2 linked regions of the Homo sapiens genome follow. The protein of the gene in region 2 purifies or fractionates together with the protein of the main gene of each other region. This does not show direct contact. Each region holds a gene or a part of one and is shown on either strand. Other genes may lie near its edges.

The links. The genes of interacting proteins can lie anywhere in the genome.
Region 1: the proteins of SPARC (region 2) and BCAT1 fractionate together in Homo sapiens (co-fractionation; one large-scale study listed by BioGRID). This does not show direct contact.

Annotation. Positions count from the first base shown.
Region 1 is NC_000012.12:24,942,602-24,946,101, reverse strand, and holds part of BCAT1 (branched-chain-amino-acid aminotransferase, cytosolic), read left to right. Parts: intron 1-3,500.
Region 2 is NC_000005.10:151,676,916-151,680,415, reverse strand, and holds part of SPARC (SPARC isoform 1 precursor), read left to right. Parts: intron 1-659; exon of another isoform or gene 660-760; intron 761-1,079; exon of another isoform or gene 1,080-1,196; intron 1,197-3,368; exon of another isoform or gene 3,369-3,471; intron 3,472-3,500.

The DNA.
Region 1 (3,500 bases), on a different chromosome or scaffold from region 2:
AGGTTGCCAGCTTCTTTAAATGGCCTCTTCTCAACTGGTATAGGAAGTTGGAAAATAAAGAACTTTCTTTATTTCCCTTTAGTGTTGGTAACCACAGTTTCTTTAAATAACAGATGCCCACCCCAGGGAAACCCAGTGGCATGATCAGCCTTATGCTCAGGAAGGTTTGGTTGCTATACTGGAGAGTGAGAATCTGGGACCTTCCATGATAGACATAATTGTGCCAGCTATCCTCTACTTTCTATATGATGCTATCATTCTTTTTTCTTTTCTTTTTTTTGACAGAATCTCACTGTGTTGTTCAGGCTGGAGTGCCGCAGAGTGATCTCTACTCACTGCAACCTCTGCCTCCTAGGTTCAAGCAATTCTTGTGCCTCAGCCTCCTGAGAAGCTGGGATTACCACCATGCCCAGCTAATTTTCGTATTTTTTTGTAAAGACGGAGTTTTGCCATGTTGGCCAGGCTGGTCTGGAACTCCTGGCCTCAAGCGATCTGCCCATCTCGGCCTCCCAAAGTGCTGGGATTACAGGCATGTGCTATCATTCTTTTTGAGCACAGGAGGAAACTATGGCTGATCTGCTCATTTTACTGTCAAAAATATAGGCAGCTTTTGTATTGTAACATTATCCCCTTAACAGCTGTCCAACTGGTCTATACATTTCACCTAACATATGGTAAATGTTCCTACTGTTGGCCTTTCCTGAGCCTCTGTCCATTCAACTAAGGCCACTGCAATGGGATTGTATGCAGTTCAGCCAAGAAATAAATGTGAGGTGCAACTCACATTTTTTAAATGTTTCAAAATTAAGCATTTAGGTGCTTTTATTCATAAACATGACTTTGCAAATATTGGTAAACAGTTTCATCATAAGACCTTGTCAGTGACTCACAATGTCAATGGTGAACGCAAAGGAGAATCTGTCTTTTCTGGAACACCAGGTTCAGGTATCAGTTTCAACTATGCTTATAATTTGTGCTCTAAAGTCCACAAAGCTAAATTATCTTTCCCCTAAAAATTGAGTACTCATATCCTTAAAATAGCTTGGAAATTAGATTACCTTATGAATACAGCATAGCATGTCACATAAACGTTTTTCTACTGTTATACCTTTTTGGTGGGAAAGACTATTTTGCAAAACATTTTTCTTGTGTTCAGTAATTAATGGGAAAAACAAACTCTAAAAGAAAGAGACAGTTATGTCCCAAAAATACAGGAAAATGGAAGAATGGAAACAGGGAAGACCAATAAAGAAAAAAATAGAGGAAATTACAAGTAATAAACTGAAGTCATACTGAAAAACATATGGCTCTTTCTTATTGAAAGTTGTGAAATACTTGCAAAACTCAGCTAGTTCCATTAAGAATAGTCTTTAATCTAAAAAGAACAAATTCATTTGTCAGTTCTTTATTTCGGTGTGTAGATTTGAATGTTTCATCAATTGCATTTACGGTTTATCCCTCAGTGTGAGAACTGTTTTTGCTGTTTTGACTATAAATGGATATCTGCTTTAGGAAGACTTAGGAAGCCTGGGACATAGGATTACAGATCAAATTCTATTTGACTCCATAGAAGTTGAGACGGAAGGAGCACCTGTTGGGATATTCTAGACCAAACATTCCACAGCTGTCTCTTAACGTGACTGACAAAGAGACACAGTTGAGACGAAGTTTGGGTATATCCTGGGATGAGGCCAAGGGTGGATTTGCACAGGATGGTCACAGGGCAGTTGTTAGCATTCCACCACTACATAAAAGGGTGATTTTGCCAAGTGCATTTCATTTCATTTCAGTTGATTTAGATACCAAGTTATATTGTTTTGACTTTAGGACTAGATGTGAGTTCAGGAATTTGAAATCATAATAAATGTTTCCTTGAACTTTGAAGATAAAAGGTAGAGTTAAAAGACAGCTGCGAAGTCTACATGGGGAAGCATAATACATGACTCAGGGTTCCATGGTTTTCAGTGTCGGTGAGTGCTCTGTACACTTATAAGAATAGTGCTGGTGTTTATAGAAGAAACACATGCAGGTTTGAGGCAAGACTTCCTTGCTTAATTGGTGCTTTTGCTTTCCATTTTCTAAATGCCATGCAAACTACTTTTTTTTTTTTCTTTTGTTGAGACGGAGTCTTGCTCTGTCACCCAGGCTGGAGTACAGTGGTGCGATCTCGGCTCACTGCAAGCTCCGCCTCCTGGGTTCACGCCATTCTCCTGCCTCAGCTTCCTGAGTAGCTGGGACTACAGGCGCCCGCCACCACGCCCGGCTAATTTTTTGTATTTTTTGTAGAGACGGGGTTTCACCATGTTAGCCAGGAAGGTCTTGATCTCCTGACCTCGTGATCTGCCCGCCTCGGCCACCCAAGGTGCTGGGATTACAGGCGTGAGCCACCGCTCCCGGCCTCAAACTACTTTAACTGAAAACATTCTTCTAAGGAAAGCATCAGAAAACTTACTAGAATTGCTTAAGAATAAATAAATAATACAAATAAAAGAGCAAAATGAGAAAGTAGACAGACTCCTAGTCTATTGTGCTATTGATCTCTCCAGGTTCTAGGCTTTCTTGGGTCTGACACCACTTTGTAAATTTTTTTTTTTTTTTTTTTTTTTTTCCAGATAGGGTCTCATTCTGTCACCTAGGCTGGAGTGCAGTGGTACAATCATGGCTCACTTCAGCTTCAACCTCCTGGGCTCAAGTGATCTTCCTGCCTCAGCTCCCTGAGTAGCTGGGACCACAGGCATGTGCCACCACGCCCGGTGAATTTTTGTATTTTTTGTAGAGATGGGGTTTCTCCATGTTGCACTGGCTGGTCTTGAACTCCTGGGCTCCAGTGATCCACCCACCTTGGCCTCCAAAGTGCTGGGATTACAGGCATCCGTCACTGCACTGGGCCAGTTTGTAAATCTTATGAAAAGTATGGCCAATCTTTTGCAAAATGTGCAAACACATATAGACACAAAGTTTTATATCTAAATTATTGGTTATTAAAGCCAGGACAATAGAGTGCATATAGCATGGAAGACAGGTAGAAAAGACTGAAATGGTTTAGTTATTCAGAGCAGTGGAGGGCTATTGGCTCTTGCCTTTGCAGTCAGCTGAGATATGAAACTATATAAGCAGAAGCTTCACGCTGCCATTTGAATATTGAAAATCTCCACTTTTAGTTCAAGAGATAAACAACCAATGGTTTGTTTGTTCACAGCACATAAGTTATCACTTTCTTCTCTGTTTCATCCCATCAAGATCTAAGGTGTATAGTTACAGAATAGAACTCGGTTCATACCATATGCACCCTAATTTCTTCGATCTTCAACTAGTTTGGAAGTGTGTGTGGGTGTTTTCTTAGCCAAGGTTAATATGCAATTTCTTAGTGGAGTGTAGGAGTTTGGGGTGCCTAGCCTTCCTACTTCCCACTTAGATAACTTCCCCTACCTGTTGTACCTGTCAAAGGAGAAGGCCAGTATGGCCATGTTCTTTGCAGGTGACTCCACCTTAGCCACAGC
Region 2 (3,500 bases):
AAAAAGAAAAGAAAAGAAAAATTCGCTGGGTGTAGTCACAAGTGCCTGTGATCTCAGCTACTCGGGAGGCTGAGATGGGAGAATCACTTGAGCCCAGGAGGCAGAGGTTGCAGTGAGCTGAGATTGCGCCAACCACACTCCAGTCTGGGTGACAGAGGGAGACCGTGTCTCAAAAAAAAAAAAAAAAAAAAAAAAAAAAGATGTTTTCCACTATTCTCTATTGCAGTATTTCAACAAGGTATGGGTTAAGTAAGATATTTTGGATTGGCCTCAGTCCTTTTGCATAAAATTTTTAAATAAAAAAATTGGTTAAAATGAAATACAATTTAAAACTCAGTTCTTCATTTGCACTGGCAACATTTCAAGCATTCAGTAACCACTTGTAACCAGTAGCTATCATAGTGGACCACGTAGATATAGAATGTGTTCATCATCTTGGGAAGTCCTGTTGGGTTGCATTACTCCATAAGTTCTTTCCACCCAAATAAGATTTAATGATGGCAACTCAGTTTCTTTGCTTCACATCCTAAGTCTATCATTCTGAGACCCACAGTCCATGATTCTATGATTCTGAGGTATCCCCCCTGTTCTAACGTTCAGTGGCTTTTTAACGTCCAAGGAGAGCCCAAAGGAGGCCCTTTATGTTTTGAGGGACAAACCTGGGGGCTGGCTGTACTTTTCCATCCTCAGAGTCTTTCCAGAGAGAGAAGTGACCTCAGCTTCAGGTCCTGCTGGCAGCCAAGGACGGGTTTTCAGCAGTCTCCAGAGCAAATAAAGGCAAAAGGAAGGGACTCGATGTACGGAACAGGAGGCAGTGGCGGCTGGGAGGGGGCTAAAACTGTCTGCATTTGATGGCCACCATGCCAAGGGAAATATGCCTTCTCTTCCTCCCCTGGCCCTGGGCATTTTCCTTCCCAGGAACTCAGGCCAGTTCAAGGCCCAACTGAGCCCCATTCAGGTGACCACCTGGGAGCGGGTAGCTGCCAAGGGAAATAGTGTGCAGAGGTAGAGACATACCAGTGGTGGGGTAGGGTTGCACGGGTTCTCACCCTAGCCCTGCCACCCAGTCACTCACTCACTGCTGTTAGCCGTTGGCAGTTTTCTCCTTTCCTCTAGGCCTTGGTCTTCTCATCTGTACTATTGGGCAGAAATATGTGACTTGAGCCCCCAGTGGGGTGCTGGATTATGAAAACACCCTGAAAATGATAAATGTATGCATCATCACAGACTAAAGAAATACAAAGGAGGGAGTTTTTGTTTAATATTGGTCATTTATATGAAGGGAATTTAAATTTTCGCCAGGCACGCTACACCTAGGTTTGATTGGCAAAGGATCACAGCTGTGAGTTCTGAATGCTGGGGTTTGATACTGTGTTCTGACCTTGCTGGGGTGACTGTTATACTCCATTAGCTTTGCAGGATGGACACAGGGCTCTTTGGTCAGTGGTAGTTTAGAGAGCCTCAGAGAGGTATCTCGTGGGGAGGCAGGGAGATGGCTGTGCATCTGGAATAGTTCAGCCGCTTCCCTTCCCTCCCATCTCATCATCTGGGGGAAAAGTGCTCTTGGACTGGTGGTGTAGCACCGGGTGCTGGGCAGGACCCAGATTTTGTGTTTGTGTTTACAGTTTTCTTCCAAAACTTTTAAGGTGTATTCCAAGATTTTGCGTTCTGTTCTTAACAGTCTCTCTGCATTTCTCCCCCACTCCCACTTGTCTGAGCGTAATTCCTATTAGGCTCACCCCAACTCCATGAGTGAGAACGCTTGCCTATTTGGAGAGGGCCTGAATTGTTGCATGACTTTGGACAAGTGCTTCCTCCCTCTCAACCTCAGATTCCCCATTAGGACAGTGGGACTAAGAACCCTTCCATGCCTGTCTGCCTACTTCCCAGCATTGTCAGAAGGCTCTAGGAGACAGTGTTATGTGACAGTGCTTTAGAAACTATGAAGCAGCACTATAAGACTTAGAGTTATTTTTCTCTTCTGGCTGCAACAGCAGGGATGGGGGTGGCAGGGAGGGTGAGTGTGCAGCTGGAAAAGGAATTCAGGAAGATGAGGAGGCAGGACAGACAGAAGAGCCGCCCAGCGAAACCTTCCCCTGGTCACAGAGGGGAGCGCGGTTACTCTGCTCATATGAAGGACGCAGACTCAGGGAAATGTCTGTCTTCCTGTCTTTCTAATCTGAAGCTTACTACATTTCCAGTCCTAGCTGGGCTATTTCTTCAATAACATGACTTCCCTGTCATTATAGCTCAGACAGGGTAACTTTTTGTTTTGTTTTGTTTTAGCTGCTATTTCACTTTGATCCTTCAACCTCAAACTATCTCAGACAAGTCCTTCCTTGATGTTTTCTTTTCTGTTCCATTTGTCCCAAGCCACATGCAGGAGTTATTTATCTTGCGTCTTCCAAAAGGGGAAGCAAGAAGGGAGATTTTTCCACTTAAGCCTGGGGAACAAGTGAACAACTGTGTGAGGGGAGGAACATTCCACAAGCTGCCTCAAAAGGGAAGACTAGACTCCTCTGGAAGTTGGGGTTATTGTGAAGCAATACCAAACCCCCAGGTCCTTTACATTTCTGTTAGTTTTACTTCATTCACTCTGTGCAATAGGGGGTGAGGTTTTGTGTCTCTTTAAGCCCAAGAAAGGACCATTATGAAGTGGGCTCTTCCTCTGCCTGTTTCTGCTTCCCAAATGCTATAGTACAAGTGAAGACATATGATCCCAGAGGAGACCATATGTGTCAAGACCAGAATGTGCTTGGGGTGTCTTAAGAGCATTTTAAGGACCGAGGCTGCCACTTCAAAGTTCACCTAGTCTACCCATTTCAATTGATAGATGGGGGAACCAAGGTCTAGAGAGACCAAAAGACTTGATACTACTGTGGTAGAACAAGACCCCCTGGCATTTAATTTCAAGCTGAGTATTTTTCTCCATGATGCCGGGTTACCTCCCACCACCATTTGGTCAGTTGAGAAGTCTTGGAAGAAATAAGGGATGATGAGCCTGACAGGGAGGTTTTGGGAGAAGAAAGAGGGAAGACATGGCCACTGTTGCTCCTGATGGAAGGTTATTTGTGGGTAGAGAGAGCAGGTTTGTTCTTTGTGGCTGCAGGGGAGATGGGGTAGACAGATCAGAAAGTTTGAGGGAGGCACATTTAGATCAGTAAAAGAAAGAACTTTCTAAAGTCACTTGAGAATGAAAAGCCATTTAGTTAGTGCAAGAAATGAAATGTCTCCACCACAGAGCCTCTGTTAGGAATAGCATTTTAGTTTTGAATCCTCAGAGGAGATACTGCTCCAAAATCCCTTATAGTCATGAGAGTATTAGAGTCTAGAGCTTGGCATTTAGAGAATGAGGCCTTAACAGTTACCAGAACAGAGGTATTTTCTAGATCTCAGCTAACATCCCCTCTGCAACACATGGAAGCATCTGGATGGTTTCCGTACAGGACCTAAAGAAGTGCTGTCTCTTCTGGGTAGAATGGAGAAAAATGTGGCCACCC